Regions from separate parts of the Homo sapiens genome. Here region 2 is linked to region 1. Evidence: fine-mapped expression QTL. A gene starts in region 1. The other region holds a variant in brackets. All regions are shown on one strand. Distances are from middle to middle. Region 1 holds the start of NEMP1 (nuclear envelope integral membrane protein 1). Region 2 has its middle 43 kb from the start of HSD17B6.

What was found. PIP is the estimated chance that this variant, and not a neighbour inherited with it, causes the effect.
Region 2: its variant is the best candidate, but not a certain one, in a credible set for the expression of NEMP1 in whole blood (TwinsUK, PIP 0.85).

The regions. Positions count from the first base shown.
Region 1 is chr12:57,073,812-57,083,332 of GRCh38, forward strand. NEMP1 (nuclear envelope integral membrane protein 1) reads right to left here and starts at 4,980. Exons shown (of 9, transcript NM_001130963.2): 1 at 4,808-4,980. The coding sequence starts at 4,934. RefSeq lists enhancers at 4,535-4,784, 4,905-4,954.
Region 2 is chr12:56,801,296-56,810,816 of GRCh38, forward strand. No RefSeq gene overlaps it. Among named protein-coding and RNA genes, the nearest start is that of HSD17B6, 43 kb to the left of the region's middle. RefSeq lists an enhancer at 3,375-4,024. The variant G/A (reference allele first, on the strand shown) is at 5,156.

The DNA.
Region 1 (9,521 bases):
TAGCCTATCTGAGATTCACCCCCAGGTCTGACTATGGTCTTAAACACTAGATATACTTCCTGTCCTATAAAGGAATAAAGTAAGCTAAACTACTCCATCTGTTGATTTTCTCTATCCCTTTCCTGAGTAGAACAGAATTGGCAGGTTTTTTATTTTATTTTTTTATTTTTTTTTTGAGACAGGGTCTGGCTCTGCTGCTCAGGCTGGAGTACAGTAATGTGATCATAGCTCATTGCAGCCTCAAACTCTTGGGCTCAAACAATCCTCCCACTTCAGCCTCCCAAGTAGCCAGGACTACAGGTATACACCACCACACCCAGCTAGTTTTTTTTTTTTTTAAAGAGACAAGGTCTTACTATGTTGCCCAGGCTGGTCTTGAACTCCTGGCCTAAAGCAATCCTCCCACATTGGCCTCCCAAAGCACCCACGCTGACCTCCCAAAGCACTGGGATTACAGATCTGCCACCATGCCCAGCCAGCATTTTTTTTTTTTTTTTTCAGACAGGGTCTCACTCTGTCACCCAGGCTGGAATACAGTGGTGCGATCTTGGCTCACTGCAACCTCTGCCTCCCAGGTTCCAGCGATTCTCCCACCTCAGCCTCCTGAGTAGCTGGCATTACAGGCATGAGCCAACTCAATTGGCTAACTTTTTTTGTGTGTGTGTATTTTTGTAGTAGAGATGGGGTTTCACCATGTTGGCCAGACTGATCTAGAACTCCTGGCCTCAACTGATCCACCCACCTCAGCCTCCCAAAGTGCTGGGATTACAGGCGTAAGCCACCACGCCCAGCCAGCAATATTTTTAATATATAGTACTTTTGGAGGATACTAAAAGATTTCAAGGTTGTTTCCTTCCAGCTGTTTTGTGTCACTTCAAATTTTAACAGCAGGCAATGATTACATGCAGTCCCTCTGATTTACCAAAACAGAAGATTCTCCTCTCAATTTGTATTTAATATCAGCTAATTCAAGATTTAAAAGTGACCACTGTCCAGCCGGGCATGGTGGCTCACACCTGAAATCCCAGCACTTGGGGAGGCCAAGGCAGACGGATCACTTGAGGTCAGGAGTTCAAAACCAGCCTGGCCAACATGGTGAAACCCCGTCTCTACTACAAATACAAAAAAATCAGCTGGGCATGGTGGCGGGCACCTGTAATCGCAGCTTCTTGGGAGGCTGAGGCAGAAGAATCGCTTGAACCTGGGAGGGGAGACTGCAGTGAGCCGAGATCGCGCCTCTGCACTCCAGCCTGGGTGACAGAGCAAGACTACGTCTCAAAAAAATAAATAAGGGGCTGGGCGCCGTGGCTCACACCTGTAATCCCACCACTTTGGGAGGCCGAGGCAGGTGGATCACCAGGTCAGCAGATTGAAACCATCCTGGCTAACAAGGTGAAACCCCATCTCTACTAAAAGCACAAAAAAAATTAGCTGGGTACGGTGGCGGGCGCCTGTAGTCCCAGCTACTTGGGAGGCTGAGGCAGGAGAATGGCATGAACCCGGGAAGTGGAGCTTGCAGTGAGCCAAGATCACACCACTGCACTCCAGCCTGGGCGACAGAGCAAGACTCCATTTCAATATAAATAAATAAATAAATAAATAAATAAATAAATAAATAAATAGTTGGGAGCCAAGATCACACCACTGCACTCCGGCCTGGGCGACAGAGCAAGACTCCATCTCAATATCAATAAATAAATAAATAAATAAATAAATAAATAAATAGTTGGGCCCAGGCGTGGTGGCTCACGCCTGTAGTCCCAGGACTTTGGGAAGCCAAGGTGAGGGGATTGCCTGACCTCAGGAGTTTGAGACCAGCCTGGCCAACATGATGAAACCCCATCTCTACAAAAAAAAAAAGAAAAAAAAATAAGGCCAGGCACGGTGGCTCACACCTGTAATCCCAGCACTTTGGGAGGCTGAGGCGGGCAGATCATTTGAGGTCAGGAGTTTGAGACCAGCCTGGCCAACATGGCGAAATCCCACTCTACTAAAAATACAAAAAAATTACCCGGGCATGGTGGCACACACCTGTAATCCCAGCACTTTGGGAGGCTGAGGCGGGCAGATCACTTGAGGTCAGGAGTTTGAGACCAGCCTGGCCAACATGGCGAAATCCCACTCTACTAAAAATACAAAAAAATTACCCGGGCATGGTGGCACACACCTGTAATCCCAGCTACTCGGGAGGGTGAGGTAGGAGAATCGCTTGAACCTAGGTGGCCGAGATGGCACCACTGCACTCCAGCCTGGGCAACAGAGCAAGACTCCATCTCAAAAAAATAAATAAATAAATAAATAAAAATGTATACACAAAGATGTTCACAAACTTACAACAATGAAAAACTAGAAATACCACAAATATCCAACCAACAGTACAAACCACCAATATCCAACCAAATGTTTAATCCACAACATTAATAATGATTTTTACCAGGCAGATGGCACGTGCCTGTAGTCCCAGCTACTTGGGGAGACCGAGGTGGGAAGTTACAGTGAGCTATGATTGTGCACTGCACTCTAGCCTGGGTGTCACAGCAAAACCACGTCACTAAAAAATAATAAATGAAGGCCAGGCATGGTGGCTCACGCCTGTAATCCCAGTACTTTGGTAGGCTGAGGCGGGCGGAACACCTGAGGTCAGGAGTTCGAGACCAACCTAGCCAACATGGTGAAACCCCATCTCTACTAAAAATACAAAATTAGCTGAGTGTGGCTGGGCGTGGTGGCTCACGCCTGTAATCCCAGCACTTTGGGAGGCTGAGGTGGGCAGATCACGAGGTCAGGAGTTTGAGACCAGCCTGGCCAGCCTGGTGAAACCCCGTCTGTACAAAAAATACAAAAAGTTAGCCAGGCATGGTGGCATGCGCCTATAATCCCAGCTACTCGGGAGGCAGAGGGAGAAGTGCTTGAACTCTGGAGGCTGAGGTTGCAGTGAGCCTAGATAGTGCCATTGCACTCCAGCCTAGGCAACGAGGGCGAAACTCTGTCTCAAAAAAAAAAAAATTAGCCGAGTGTGGTGGCACATGCCTGTAGTCCCAGCTACTTGGGAGGCTGAGATGGGAGAATGGCTTGAAACAGGAACCGAGATTGCACCACTGCACTCCAGCCTGGGCCAGACAGCAAGACTACATTCTGCGGGGCGGGGCGGGCGGGGGGTGGAGAAAAAAAATTAAATGAACATCTGCACATACATTGGAATGTAATACAAGTAAGACAACATTTACAAAGAATTTTAAGGCCGGGTGTGGAGGCTCATGCCTGTAATCCCAGCACTTTGGGAGGCCGAGGCGGGCGGATCACGAGGTCAGGAGATCAAGACCATCCTGGCTAACACGGTGAAACCCCCTCTCTACTAAAAATACAAAAAATTAGCCGGGCGTGGTGGTGGGCGCCTGTAGTCCCAGCTACTCGGGAGGCTGAGGCAGGAGAATGGCGTGAACCTGGGAGGCGGAGCTTGCAGTGAGCCGAGATCTGGCCACTGCACTCCAGCCTGCGCGAAAGAGGGAGACTCTGTTTAAAAAAAAAAAAAAAAAATTAGCCGGGCGTGGTGGCGGGCAAGTGTAATCCCAGCTACTCAGGAGGCTGAGGCAGGAGAATCATTTAAACCCAGGAGGCGGAGGTTGCAGTGAGCTGAGATTGCACCACTGCACTCCAGCCTGGGCAACAAGAGCAAAACTCCATCTCAAACAAACAAACAAACAAAAAAACAAAAAAAGAATTTTAAATTACTTGGGAAAATTATTGTACTACAAAATCAAACGAGAAAACTATCTCTGGTAACGACTGGCAGCCTCCAGGGAAGAGAACTAGAGTACTAACTGGATACAAATTATCAATTCATAAAAAATTAAAAATATGTGGAAAAAGATCAGAAGAAAGTGTGCTAAAATAGATTGCTTCTGAATGGATTAACAGTGTGGTTTCTGCCTGCTTCTTTATACTTAATTGTACCTTGCCAAATCATCTAAAATAAACATGCATTATTTGGCCGGTCACGGTGGCTCACACCTGTAATCCCAGCACTTTGGGAGGGCCAAGGCGGATGGATCACGAGGTCAGGAGTTCGAGACCACCCTGGCCAACATAGTGAAACCCCATTTCTACTAAAAATACAAAAATTAGCCGGGCGCGGTGGCGGGTGCCTGTAATCCCAGCTACTCCGGAGGCTGAAGCAGGAGAATTGCTTGAACCCAGGAGGCGGAGGTTGCAGTGAGCGAGATCGCACCACTGCACTCCAGCCTGAGTGACAGAGCTAGACTCCATCTCGCGGGCCGGGGGCGGTAAGGAATCAAGGTTTTACAAGAGCAGAAGATAGTAGAGATCACTGCATTTCTGTCAACTACATCCGTTCTGCCACCCGTGCCCTGCGTCCTGACAGAGCATACGCTCAGATGGTGTTTGCTGATTTGCCGAATGAATGAGATGGTCCCTTTCCCGCGGCTGCTCTGCCTGCCCAGAATGGTCCCCAGGTTTTCTCGCTTTTAACCAAGAAACTCAAGGCTTCTGCAACGAGACACAGCCCCCAGGACTGCTTCTCAACCAGTCTAGGCCTCCCTTCCTGTCTCCGCCAAAAGGCTTCAGGCTCCTCCCCACTCTGGAAGCTGCCCCAGCCCGCTTCAGGGCCCAGACCCTCAGTCCCGACGCCCACTAGCCTGCCAAGTTTCTTCCACCACACTACGCCGGCGGCCCTCGGTAGAGCCACCGCCCTTCTGCAGAGTAACGGCCCGCGCCCTCGGGACAATCCCTTTTCCAAAAATAACCCCCTCGGCACCTGCCCCCTTGGCAGCTGCTGCCCGGGCGGTACCTGTGCCGTAGACCAAGCAGCCGGAGAGGATCAAGAGTAGCCGCACTGTCCCACCGCCCCCGACTCCCGAGCCCCAGGGCCCGGGACCAACTGCCGGCGAGACCGCCACTTTCATTCCTCCCGCCATGGTTGCCTCAAGCCACCTCCTCCTCACGTGCCTTACCCCAGCAACTAACTCCGAACGGGCAACGACAGCAGCCTATCCTCTACGAAACCCGCCCCTATCAACCAATGGGATGGGCAGGGCTTCGAGCACCCAGCCCTCCAAGGGCCCTATGAGTCCCGCCCCTTAGCAACTGAAGAGAGAGGGCGGGAAAAGCAGCTTTCAGCCTATTGGAAAATGGGTTCTCACCCTAGCAGTGGCGACAGGAAGATCCCACCCCGCTAACAACATGCTTCCGTCTTCAGTTTATTTACAACTGGTGTGATTGATGGTAAGTTTAACCAATAGAAAATCGGAATGGGAGAGGCCTCCTTGACCAAACTCGGTATTTCCATAGAAGCTGTCTGAAGTTCCTTCCGTTTTCTTTCGGTTACTTTTTATCACGACCTTTCTGTTATGAGACGCCTACAATTGAGATCGCTTTATGAGTAGGACCCTGATAGGACGATTTTTAAAGTCGACTGACAAAAGTGTGGTTCTCCAAAGTCCTAAAGGATTTAAAATAGAAGTCACAAAAAAGTGTGTGTCAATATTTTATAAGCATAAACATTAGCTTTTAAAAATGTATTCATAGGATTTTTATTTTTGGAAGTAAAATTAATGTTAGGATTAAGAAAGATTCATTTATTCCTCTTATCATCTTGTGAGACAAATATAATTCTCTCCATTTAAGAAGCCAAAGCCAAGACAGCCACAGGAACCTGCCCAAGATTTCATAGTTCATCTGGTCTGTGATCCCAACCTAAATCCTACTGACTCCAAAGCCGGAGTTATTTATATGGATTAGCTGCTTCCCATTCAATGATTTAACACAGGGCCCAGCAGAGATCCAGGTGTTCAGAAACTGTTAGTAGAAATTGAAACTTTTTTTTTAAGAGGATCTGATGGTGATGGGTAGGAAAACTACAGATGATAGAGCCAAATGAATTGAGGAATTCAAGGAAGGGGGCATCTCCTGGGGAAGGTTCAAGCTTTCAAAACAAGAATTTTTTTTTTTAATGTTTTTAGAGACAGGGTCATTCTCTGACACCCAAGCTGGAGTGCAACAGCACCATCACAGCTCAGTGTAACCTTGAATTCCTGGACTTAAACCATCTTCCCACCTCAGCTTCCTAGATAGGTTGGGCTACAGGGATGCACCACCATGCCCAGCTATTTGTTTGTTTCATTGTTGTTGTTGTTGTTGTTGTTGTTATTGAGACAAGGTCTCCTTCTGTAACCCTTCTGGAATGCAGTGGTGTAACCACAGCTCACTGCAGCCTCGAACTCCCAGGATCAAATGATCCTCCCACTTCAATCTCCCAAGTAGCTGGGACTACAGGCATGAGCCACTATGTCTGGCTTAATTTTTTTTAATTACTTTTTGTAGAGACAATATCTTGCTATGTTGCCCAGGCTGACCTCAAACTCCTGGCCTCAAGTGATTATCCCACCTTGGCCTCCCAAATTACTGAAATTACAGGAGTAAGCTACTGCACCTGGTCTAAAACAAGGACCTTTTTAAAAGTCAAAATGGGCCGGGCATGGTGGCTCAGGTCTGTAATCCTAACACTTTGGGAGTCCGAGGCGGGTGGATCAACTGAGGTCAGGAGTTCGAGACCAGCCTGGCCAACATGGCAAAACCCCGTCTCTACTAAAAATACAAAAATTAGCCAGGCATGGTGGTAGGTGGCTGTAAGCCCAGCTACTCAGGAGGCTGAGGCAGGAGAATCCCTTGAACCCAGGAGGCGGAGGCTGCAGTGAGCCAAGATCGCCCCATTGCACTCCAGACTGGGTGACAGAGCAAGACTCTGTCTCAAAAGAGAAAAAAAAAAAAAGTCAAAATGGGCTGGGCATGGTGGCTCATGCCTGTAATCCCAGCACTTTTGGGAGGTTGAGGTGGGAGGATCACTTGAGGCCAGAAGTTCGAGACCAGCCTGGCCAACACAGCAAAACCCTATCTCTAATAAAAATACAAAAATTAGCCCAGCATGGTGGCAGGTTCCTGTAATCCCAGCTACTTAGGAGTCTGAGACAGAAGAATTGCTTGAGCCCAGGAGGCAGAGGTTGCAGTGAGCCGAGATCATGCCACTTCACTCCAGCCTGGGTGACAGAGCGAGCCTCTCTTGTCTCAAAAAAAAAAAAAAAAAGTCAAAATGGGGCTGAGCTATGGGCAAGAGAAGAGATTTCATTCTCAGAAGGAAAAGTCTAGGCCAACAGTGCTGATATGGTCATCCTGTATTTCACACACACACTCCCTCAGCTGACCTAGGGAAGTCAGCATCAATCATGTTGATACTATGTACCCTTGATAACATGAGATGAAAATGGCATTTTAACTCTGTGGTTTTCCTTCCCAAAACCCATAACACCACTCTAATCTTGAGAAAAACATTAGACAAATTCCAATAGAGGCATCCTACAAAATACCTGACCAGTACTCCTCAAAGCTGTCAAAGTCATCCAAACATCATTATGGGCTTTTTTGTTTTTGTTTTTTGAGACAGAGTTTCACTCTTGTTGAGCAGGCTGGAGTGCAATGGCACAAACTTGGCTCACCGCAACCTCCCCCTCCCAGGTTCAAGCGATTCTCCTGCCTCAGCCTCCCAAGTAGCTGGGATTACAGGTGTGTGCCACCCCGCCCAGCTAATTTCATATTTTTAGTAGAGATGGGGTTTCTCCATGTTGGTCAAGCTGGTCTTGAACTCCCGACCTCAGGTGATTTGCCCGCCTCGGCCTCCCGAAGTGCTGGGATTACAGGCATGAGCCACCATGCCCAGCCCATTATGTTTTTGAGAACTAAACATAATGTGGTGGTCTAGATGGGATCCTGGAACAGAAAAACACATTAGTTTAAAAAAACGAGGCTGGGCACGGTGGCTCATGCCTGTAATCCCAGCACTTTGGGAGGCTGAGGCGGGCGGATCATGAGGTCAGGAGATGGAGACCATCCTGGCTAACATGGTGAAACCCCGTCTCTACTAAAAATAAAAAAAATTAGTCGGGCGTGGTGGCAGGTACCTGTAGTCCCAGCTACTCAGGAGGCTGAGGCAGGAGAGTGGTGTGAACCTGGGAGGCGGAACTTGCAGTGAGCTGAGATCGCTCCACTGCACTCCAGCCTGGGCGACAGAGCAAGACTCCGTCTCAAAAAATAAGAAAACAAAAAAAAACACGGAGGCTGAGCATGGTGGCTCACGCCTGTAATCCCAGCACTTTGGGAGGCCAAGGCGGGCGAATCACGAGATCAGGAGTTCAAGACCAGCCTGGCCACCATAGTGAAACCCCGTCTCTACTAAAAATACAAAAATTAGCTGGGCGTATGGCGGGCACCTGTAAACCCAGCTACTCAGGAGGCTGAGGCAGGAGAATCACTTGAACCTGGGAGGCGGAGGTTGCAGCAGTGAGCCAAGATCAGTGCCACTGCACTCCAGCCCGGTGACAGAGTAAGACTCAGTCTAAACAACAACAACAACAACAAAAACTCAAAGGAAATCTGAATAAACTGTAGACTTTAGTTAATAATAATGTTTCAATACTGTTTCATTAATGGTGCTAAATGTACCATACTAATGTCAGATAATAATTGAGGAAATTGAATGTAGGGTATATAGGAATTCACCATATTATCTTTTCAATTTTTCTGTACATGTAATGTTTCTAAAAATAAAGTTGGCTAGCCTCAGTGGTTCACACCTGTGATCCCAGCACTTTAGGAGACCGGGTCTGAGGATGGCTTGAGCCCAGGAATTCAAGACCAGCCTGGGCAACATAGTAGGACTCTGTCTTTACAAAAATACAAAAATTAGCCAAGTGTGTTGGCACGTGCCTGTAGTCCCAGCTGCTCAGGAGGCTGAGATGGGACGATCACTTGAGTCTGGGAGGTTGAGCCTGCAGTGAGCCATGATCATGCCTCTGCACTCCACCCTGGGTGACAGAGTAAGACCTTGTTGCTAAAAAAATGAATAAATTGGGCAGGTGCAGTGGCTCATGCCTGTAATCCCAATGTCTTGGGAGGCCGAGGCAGGTGGATCACTTGAGCCTAGGAGTTTGAGACCAGCCTGGGCAACATAGTGAAACCCCGTCTCTACAAAGAATACAAAAAAAAAAAAAATTAGCCAGGTGTGGTGGCATGCACCTGTGGTCCCAGCTACTTGGGAGGTTGACGTGGGAGAATCACCTGAGCCTGGGAAGTCAAGACTGCAATGAGCTGTGATTGCACCACTGTGCAGCCTAGGTGACAGAGTGAGACCCTGTCTCAAAATAAATAAATAAAATAAAATAAAGGCTAATATATATGTATAGATATGTATATGTATTTTTTTATGTGTAGGTATATATACACATATATATACACATACTTCATTTTTTTTTATCAGGCCCCATTCTCATCATTCAGAGCTTGCTCTTTGGTTTTCACTAAAGCAAATCCAGGGGAACTAATTTCAGAAGATCACTGACCACTGACTATTAAAATATATAAATGAAGTGTATGGTAATGAGACTGGCTGTCCATAAACACATTACAACTTATCATCCAAATGAGTGCTGTCATTTCAAGATAGTCATTCAAGA
Region 2 (9,521 bases), 270 kb before region 1:
GCCTCCCAAAGTGCTGGGATTACAGGCATGAGCCACCACGCTGGCCTTTTTTTTTTTTTTTTTTTAACTTTTAGGTTCAGGGGTACATGTGCAGGTTTGTTATATAGGTAAACTCATGTCAGGGGGTTTTGTTGTACAGATTATTTCATCACCTTATGGGTTAGATACATCAGTATAGGTGATAATCAATATTGTCTATAATATTTTGTATTCTTCAAATATTTAATAATAAAAATAAAATGTCATGGTCTGTGTAATCTCTATAGGAACTACTTTACACACATATTACTATACCTTATATAAAACAGTAAAAAGCACTTGTTGAATTAAAAAATAAACTATATATTTTCAATAGGGACTAGTAATTTAAATCTGCTTTTCTATGTTCTCATTGTTACCTAGCAAGAAATGGCTTGCTGCCTGATATGCATAAAAGCCAATACTATTGCACCAGCTTTTGAGAAAACAAAGCTTTATTGCAAATTGACTGGCCACAAGACAGGAGGCAATGTTCAAATTTGTCTTTCAAGCTGGAGTCTGAAGATGGTAATGAGGCATGATCTGATTGGATCTTGCAATGCAGTAATGCCAGGAGGCATGATCTGATTGGATCATGCCATGGGATGATGCCAGGGTTCAATCTGATTGGATCATGGATCATGCCATGAAGTGTCCTCTTGCTTTTTTTTTCTTTTTTTGTTGAGATAGGGTCTTGCTGTGTTGCCTAGGTTGGTCTCAAATTCATGGCCTCAAGAAATCTTCACACCTCGGCCTCCCAAAGCACTGGCATTACAGGTGTGAGCTACTCTGCCTGGCCTGGTGTCGACTTCTTAATTCCATCCCCTTTCCTTGGTTCAGGCATTTAGATGCTGCCCATGGTTGCATTCTTGGTTCACCTGGGCACACTCAGTTTATATAACTTGCAACCTGGGGTCAATAGCAATTGAAAAACAACACATTATTTTATTATACAAAGTGGAACCAGATTGCGCTAATTTTGAGGGTAATGGATATTGCTGGGAAGTTTCTTGTGGCCAAACACTGTTTTAAAGAATTTTTTTCAAGCTGATTATTAACAGGAAGACCTTTTAATCCTGCCAACTGATCTAAGTAAAGTGTAGAATGTTTGGAGGGCATCGGCATTACGAAAGACCTTAGTCCTTGGGAAGAAATGAATAAATGTGTCAATAAAATTTTAACCTAGATACAAGATCTTGTACCTAGTAGTTATTCAATAAATATTTGCTGAATGAAGCAAACACAGAAAATATAAAATTATGTGAAGTGTAAAGTCTGTTTTTCTGATGCTTTGTGAGGGAGAGATTATTTTTAAAATGTATTTATTTATTTTTAACTTTTTAAAAATTAAACTTTTTTTCTTTTCTTTTTTTTGAGACAGGGTCTCATCTTGTCACCCAGACTGGAGTGCAGTGGTGTAGTCTCAGCTCAGTGCTCACTGTAGCCTTGACCTCCCAGGTTCAAGCAATCCCCCTGCTTCAGCCCCCAAAGTTGTTGGAACTACAGGCACACACCACCACACCCGGCAACTTTTTGTATTTTTTGTAGAGATGGGGTTTCACCATGTTACCTAGGCTGGCCCCAAATTCCTGGGCTCAAGCAATTAACTTGCCTGGACCTCCCAAAATGCTAGGATTACAGGCATGAGCTACCATGCCCAGCTTACTTTTAACTTTTATTTTAGTTCAGGCTGGGGTACATGTGCAGGTTTGTTAATACAGGCAAACGCATGTCATGGGTGTTTGGTGTACAGACCATTTTGTTACCCAAGTACACTAAGCATAGTACCTGATAGCTATTTTTCCTGATTCTCTTTCTTCCTCCCTCCTGCGTCCCTCAAGCAGGCCCCAGTGTCTGTTATTCCCCTCTTTGTGCCCATGTGTTCTCATTATTTAGCTCCCACTTATATGTGAGAACATGCAGTATTTGGTTTTCTGTTCCTGTGTTAGTTTGCTAGGGATAATGACTTCCAGCTTCATTCATGTTCCTGCAAAGGACATCATCTCGTTCTTTTTTACAGCTGCATAGAATTTCATGGTGTATATGTACCACATTTTCTTTATCCAGTCCACCATTGATGGGTATTTAGGTGGAATCCATGTCTTTGCTATTGTGAGTAGTGCTGCAGTGAACATTAATGTGCATGTGTCTTTATGGTGGAATGATTTATATTCCTCTGGGTATATACCCAGTAATGAGATTGCTGGGTTGAATGGTAGTTCTGAATTCAGTTCTTTGAGGAATTGCCTTACTGTTTTCCACGATGGTTGAGCTAATTTACATTCCAACCAGCAGTGTATAAGCATTCCTTTTTCTTGGCAACCTCGCCAGCATCTGGTATTTTTTGACTTTTTAATAATAGTCATTCTGACTGGTGTGAGATGGTATCTCATTGTATTATGGGATCTTTGGGGTGTTGTTTTTCTAGCCAGGAACCTCTGTGGCTGGTGGCCCCTGTGCCCGAGTTTTGCTCGGGCCCACTGGGCTTGTTTCACCTACTCAGCCTGGCAGGCTGTGTTTGGCTCACCCTACTGGCCTGGGACCCATGCCTGCCAAGGGTGAGTCAGGCATGGAACAGTGAGGAGTGTGTGAGTGAGTGTGGGATCCGGCCACTGTGCACAGTCAGACGTACCAGCTGCCGCAGTGGGCCGGGCAGCTCCAGGTGCTGGCATGGGCTCTGGCTCTCTGTGAGGCTGCAGCTAGACCAGGCACACTGCAAGCAGCTTCTACGGCTGGCACTGGAGGACACATTGGCACCCAGAAGCTCGGAGATGCCAGGAACCACAGGGCCCCAAAATAGGAGTCACAGCCCTGGTCTGGGGAACTCCCAGGTCTGGGTTCCCCAAAGGGCTGCAGCTCTTCTTTTCTTCTCTTTGCCCACAATGAGGCAAGCAAGGGGCATGTCTCAGCCCTGTTTGTGTTACAGCTCTTTTATCCTTGCCATTCAGTGGGTCCTGAGTTCTTGTCCTGTGACCAGGAAGAATGAGGTAGGCAGAAAAGAGGAGAGTGAGTAAGATGAAGGGGAGCTTTATTGAGTGATAGAACAGCTCAGAGGAAACCTGCAGGGGGCAGCTACTTTCTGCAGCCAGGGTGTCTTGATGAGTGTTCAGCTCCTAGCAGAGAGGGTAGCTCCTCTCTGCTAGGCAATTCATCCTGACAAGTGTTCAGGTATCAGCAGAGAGAGTAGCTTTTGTCTGCAGGCAGGTCATCCCAACATCTGCTCAGCTCTGGCTGAACCCAGGGCTTTTATGGGCCTCAGAGGGGAGGAGGTGAGCACTGATTGTTCCATGGGCAGCCATGGATGGGCCTGGAAAAGACACCACAAGTTTCCACTGCAGTCTATGGGAGCAGCAGCCTGGCCCCCAGCCTTCAGGCCCTCCCTGGCCTGAAGGTGGGGCCTCACGTGGGACCCACTCCCTTCCCCCCAGGAACCTGTCTGCCTCCTGCTGCCATTCATGGCACCCAGGCTGTACGTGCCAAGGGGCACCTGCAGGCCAGTGCCAAACTGCCCTTATCACCCCCTCAGCTTCCCTCCTGTGCTCTTTGGCACCCAAGGTCCAGAGGCGGGCTGAAGTGGCAGGGGGCTGGTGTGTCAACACTTCCCTGAGCATGTACACACCTGGCTGGGCTGTGACAGAGCTCAGGCTTGACCATGACTTTGCTCTTAGATCGGAGTGGGTACCGACAGCAGGGAGAAGCCAGGCGGCAGGAGCAGGCACTTCCAAGCCTGTGAGGGCAGGGGGAGAGGACCATCCTGGGTCTCCAAGAGTGCAGGGATGCCTGGGTTCACAGCCACAGTTTGGGTGTCTGCAGCTGCATCCAGGGGGTGGGGGTCCTGCTCTGTGGAGTGGGAGGTCATGCTCTGCAGTCACGACTTGGGTGGCTGCAGCCACGCCTAGGAGGACAGGGCTCCTCCCTGCTCCCAGCACCCCCAAGAGCACAGGGAGGCCTGGGTCTGCAGCCATGACTTGGGCAGCTTAACCTGTGCCCCAGGGGGTGGGGCTTCTTCTTGCTCTGTGCTTTGGGAGGCCCAGTTTGCAGCCATAACTTGGGCAGACTTGTGTCTGCACCTGGGGAGCTCCCACCCTAACAAATCAGAAGGGGCAGGGCTCCCACTTGTCTGAGGCTCCCACCAGCTGCATGGAGTATACAGCTCTGGCTGTACCTCCCTGCTGCAGCCTGTGTGATGGCAGCGGCCACTCTAGATGGCCCACCACTGCCATCAATCACCACTCTGTAGAGGTACATCTAACTGCCGTTAGGATAGGGACAGTGACCATTCTTAACTGCTTCATGCTGACAGGGGGCATTGTTTTTGGGAAAATGGCAGTCAGGTTTTCTCTCAGGGGCCTATATAAGGGTCTCCAGTAAAAGGGAGCCATTGTCCGAGGCTCCATTTGCATGACCATTGGAGTTTGACGGCCCATCCTTTTTGTTTCTTCTGAGCTGCAGTCAGAGATCACTGGTTGGTTCACCCTCACAACTGTCAAAAGCTACAAATATCTCAAAAGGAAAGCTTCCTTGATTCTGAAAAACAAAACGAAGGATCATCAATGGTTCAAGCAAAATGTCAAAAAAGATTACTTCAGTCTTCTGTTAGTTCCGTTCACTCAAAGAAACTCCTGTTCACAATCTCCAAAATTATCAGAAACCTTGGGACAAAAAGGTGCCTCAAGAGGGTGTATGGGCCCATTAAATTAGTCCCAGGCAGCCCTCACCAAATTGCAGCTAGCAACTGGCTGGGGCTGCTCCTCTGTTGCCTCCCTATCATAAGCAGGTGAAGCTGTGGGACCAGTTCCTCCTCAAACAAGGGAGAGAATGGGAGTCCCAGGAATTGGGGACCTGGCCTAATAAGGTGCCTCCTGAAAGGAAAAAAAGCTAACCTGTTGCAAGAAAAAGCTTCCTGTATTCACAGGACTATGACAGTGGCAGAAGGAGACCTGAGATGCCCCTCACGGTTGTGCCAAAGGAGGAGGAGGGCCTAGATTGAAGAGGAGAACTGAAAGACCTGCTCCAGAGTCCAGAAGGAGGTCAACCCTCCTTCCCTTGATGCCCAGAATCACCTGGGGCTCCTGGGTGGCAATGGTAGTCTGAACAACCGGAGCTGGGGAGAGGAGCCCCAGAGCCTGTCAGTCCC[G/A]CTGCACTATAAGGGAGGCCGGCCCTGGACCGGGTGACCCGTGTCTCCAGGGATAGTCCGCCCTCTAATTGTCCTCATCACAAACTGGACAGGGTCGAGGTGGCCTCCCCACACTGTCCAGACAGTCCCTCCTAAAATGACCTGGCCTGCCACATTTGCAGTAGTCAACAGGTGCATATCAGGGACTCTGGGGTCCATGAGCCCACAGAGCAGCTATTAGAGCCTCTGCCTTTTTCCTGTATCTCCCCTCTTTTCTGGACTTCCTCCCAGTTCCCACTGCAAAAGACCAACGTGGCTCCTACCAGGAAGCCCTCCAAAGTACCATCTGGTCCCACAGCCCGTTTCTGCTGCCCCCTCCTGACATCAGGGGCCACCTGTGTGATAAAGTCAGTGCCTAGGACCAGCTATTCTGCTACTGAATCAGGAGATAGAGAGGTGTGTTTTACCAAGGCCCCTCCCTCTTAGCCTTTCCAGGAAGCCAGTGGGATTCTCATCAAATCCCTATTCTACCATGAATAGGTTGGTGTAATTCAGGGCCTTAGTCCTTGTCCTTCATAAGCCCTCCGGTATACACACCTGAAAGTGTTTCCTCTTCTATTCTCCTATTTCATCATTGGGGTCCAATTTTCAACCTCCAATGGTACTGCTATTTTTCCAATCAGATAAGTCTCATACCCTTTCCTGGTCCTATATAAGATATAAAGCTCATTGGCCAGGCACAGTGACTCACGCCTGTAATCCCAGCACTTTGGGAAGCTGAGGCAGGTGGATCATGAGGTCAGGAGATCGAGACCATCCTGGCTAACATGGTGAAACCCTGTCTCTACTAAAAATACAAAAAATTAGCCGGGCATGGTGGTGGGCACCTGTAGTCCCAGATACTCAGGAGGCTGAGGCAGGAGAATGGTGTGAACCTGGGAGGTGGAGCTTGCAGTGAGCTGAGATTGCACCACTGCACTCCAGCCTGGGTGACAGAGTGAGACTCCGTCTTTAAAAAAAAAAAAAAAAAAAAAAAAAAAAAAAATATATATATATATATATATATATATATATATATATATGGCTCATTCCCCAAATTCTCTGCCACTTGCAGGGTGGCCTGCTTTTCAGCGGTGGTCAGGGTTTGATTCAAAAGTAACATGAGGCTTGGTGCAGTGGCTCACACTTGTAATCCCAGCACTTTTGGAGGCCAAGGCAGGCAGATCATCTGAGGTCAGGAGGTTGAGACCAGCCTGGCCAACATGGTGAAACCTGTCTCTACTAAAAATACAAAAATTAGCCGGTTATGGTGGTGGACACCTGTAATACCAGCTACTCAGGAGGCTGAGGCATTGCCTGAATCTGGGAGGCAGAGGTTGCAGTGAGCTGAGATCACGCTATTGCACTCCAGCCTGGGTGACAGAGTGAGACTCTGTCTCAAAAAAAAACAAGTAACATGACATCCTTCCAGGAGAGCTCAAATACTTTGGTTAAGTTCTGGAAAGCCCCTATATACCTGTTAGAGCTGTCTAAAAACTTGCCAAGATCCCCCTTAATTTGCCTTAAGTCCTGTAGAGAAAAGGGAACCTGGACCTTAATGGGGCCATATTCACCAGGCATCTGTTGTAGGGGCAGTTGTGACTGGGACCTGCCTAAAATGAGGATTTCTAGGCTGGGCCAAGCTTGAGAGAAAACAGTGGAGGGGGTTGATTCCCCCACTGGAGGTACCTCTGGGGTTTGCTTCCCTATTTCCCTGGGATTGCCCTTTGCAGGCTCTCCTGAGATGGCCATGAGGTGAGCTGATTCAATCCTACCACATCAGCAAAGGTTTGGATTACCCTGCAAGGCAAAAAAGGCCTGCATGTATGGGACCTTGGACCATTTGCCCTTGCATTTACAGAAAAGCTTCCTTCCTGGGGCCATGCTTCTTTTCTGTGCCTCAAGGTTCTTGGCACTAAATTGGCAACCAAGGAAATGACAAGAACATTTTCACCACAAATTTATGTACAGATACCAAGGCCCACTTTGCTTCATCTGTGCTACTCTTAACCTTCCATTTTATACTTTTGAAGACTAAGCCAAATGCTTATTCTACCCAGTAATATTTCTGGTTTGCAACAACATCCTTAACATTCGACGTTGTATATAAAGTAGAGATAGGAACTTTGACAGCCGTGAAAGAAAGAAAGAGTGGGAAAGAAAGAAAGATAGGAAAGATGGGAGGTTCTAGTGGCAACACCCTAATGGGCAGTCGGGGACTGGAGTTAGTCCAGGGGCCTTTGGATAACGAGGCGAAGCCTCAGCCAGATACTCTGAGTTGCCCCACAACCTCCTTTGTCTTCCACCCAGTGGCTAGACCTCCATGAAAGGAAACCGGGTTGGAATAAAGCCAACATTCCCAAAACCTGAGGGTGATGGGGGATTGACAGTGTCCTCCCCAGCGAGCCTGTCCTCTGTGTCTTAAGTCCAGCAGCCACACTAGTTGCTTTTAACTGGCTGACAGAGGCTGGCATTTTTCTTTCATTTTAGCTATTGTGGAATTTAGGGACTCCAAAAAAGGACAGAAAGAGCAGATCTGCTTTTACTTACCCTTCCACAGATCCTGGATGAGCCCCCAAAATATTACAGGATCTTTGGGGTGTTGTTTTTCTCACTGGAAACCTCTGTGGCTGGCGGTGCCTTTGCCTGAGTTTTGCTTGGGCCTGCTGGGCTCATTTTGTCCACTTGGCCCAGCAGGCTGTTTTCAGCTTACGTTACTGGCCTGGTTCCCATGCCTGCTAAGGGTGAGTCAGGTGCGGAATGGCGTAGGGTGTATGAGCAAGCATGGGGTCTGACCAGTGTGCACAGTCAGACATGCCAGCTGCTTCAGTGGGCCAGGCAGCTTCAGGTGCTGGCATGGGCACTGGCTCTCTGCTAGGCTAAGGCTGGACCAGGTGCACCGCAAGCAGCTTCCATGGCTGGCGCCAGGGAATATGGTGGTGGCTGGAAGCTTGGAGATGCCAGGAACTGCAGGGCCCCAAAGAAGGAATCACGGGCCAGTCTTGGGGAGCTCCCAGGTCTGGGATCCCCAAAGGGCTGCAGCTCTTCTTTCCTTCTCTTTGCCTGCAACATGGAGAGCAAGGGGGAAGCATGTCTCAGCCCTGTTTGTGTTACAGCTCTTTTAGCCTCACCATTCAGTGGGTCCCAAGTTCTTGTACTGAGACCAGGAAGAATGAGGTACGTAGATAAGTGGAGGGTGAACAAGACAAAGAGGAGCTTTATTGAGCAATATAACATCTCAGAGGAAACCCACAGGGGGCAGCTCCTTTCTGCAGCCAGGTTGTCCTGATGGGTGTTCAGATCCTAGCAGAGAGGGTAGCGCCTCTCTGCAGGTGGTTGTCTCGTCGTCTATACAGCTCTCAGGAGAGAGGATACCCTAGAGTGGGTGGCTCCCCTCTGCAGGCAGGTCATCCTGTCATCTCCCTGTCATCTCTCCATCAACTCTGCAGCTCTCAGCAGAGAAGAGGCCCTAGAGTGGGTTGCTCCTCTCTGCAGCTGGTTGTCCCGACATCTGCTCAGCTCTGGCTGAGCCCAGGGCTTTAATGGGCCTCAGAGGGGAGGAAATGAGCACCAGTTGGTCCATGGGCAGCCACGGGCAGGCATACAAAAGACACCACAAGTTCCCACTATGGTCCATGGGACTGGCATGCTTGGCCCCCAGTCTTCAGGGTCTCCCTGGCCTCAAGGTGGGGCCTCACCAGGGACCCACCCCCTTCCTCCCAGGAACCTGTGTGCCTCCTGCTGCCATTCATGGCACCCAGGCTGTAGGTGCCAAGGTGCACCTGCAGGCCAGTGCTGAGCTGCCCTCAGCCCCTTGTCAACTTCCCTCCTAGGCACATCAGTGCCCAATGTCTGGAGGGGGCTGAGCTGGCAGGGGGCTGGCATGTCAGCACTGCACTGAGCATGTGTACATCTGACTGGGCTGCGACAGCACCCAGGTTTGGCCCCAACTTTGTTCTGAGATCAAAGCAGGTGCCAACAGCAGGCAGAAAGCCAGTCAGCAGCAGCAGCAGGGATTTCTGAGCCTGTGAGGGCAGGTGGGACCTTCCTGGGCCCCCAAGAGTGCAGGGTAGTCTGGGTCTGCAGCTGTAGTGTGGGTGGTTGCAGCTGTGCCTAGGCAGTCAGGGCTGCTGCCTAGTTCTGGCCTCCCTAAGAGCACAGGGAGGCTCAGGTCCACAGCATTCGGGGTGCCAGGGCTTTTGCCTCCTCCATGCAGCAGGAGGCCCAGGTTTGCAGCCATGATTTGGGTGGCTGTGGCTGCATCCAGGGAGCTCCTGCCCCACCAACTCAGAAGTGGCGGAGCTCCTGCTTGTCCCCAGATCCCGCTGGCTCCATGAAGCATAGAGCC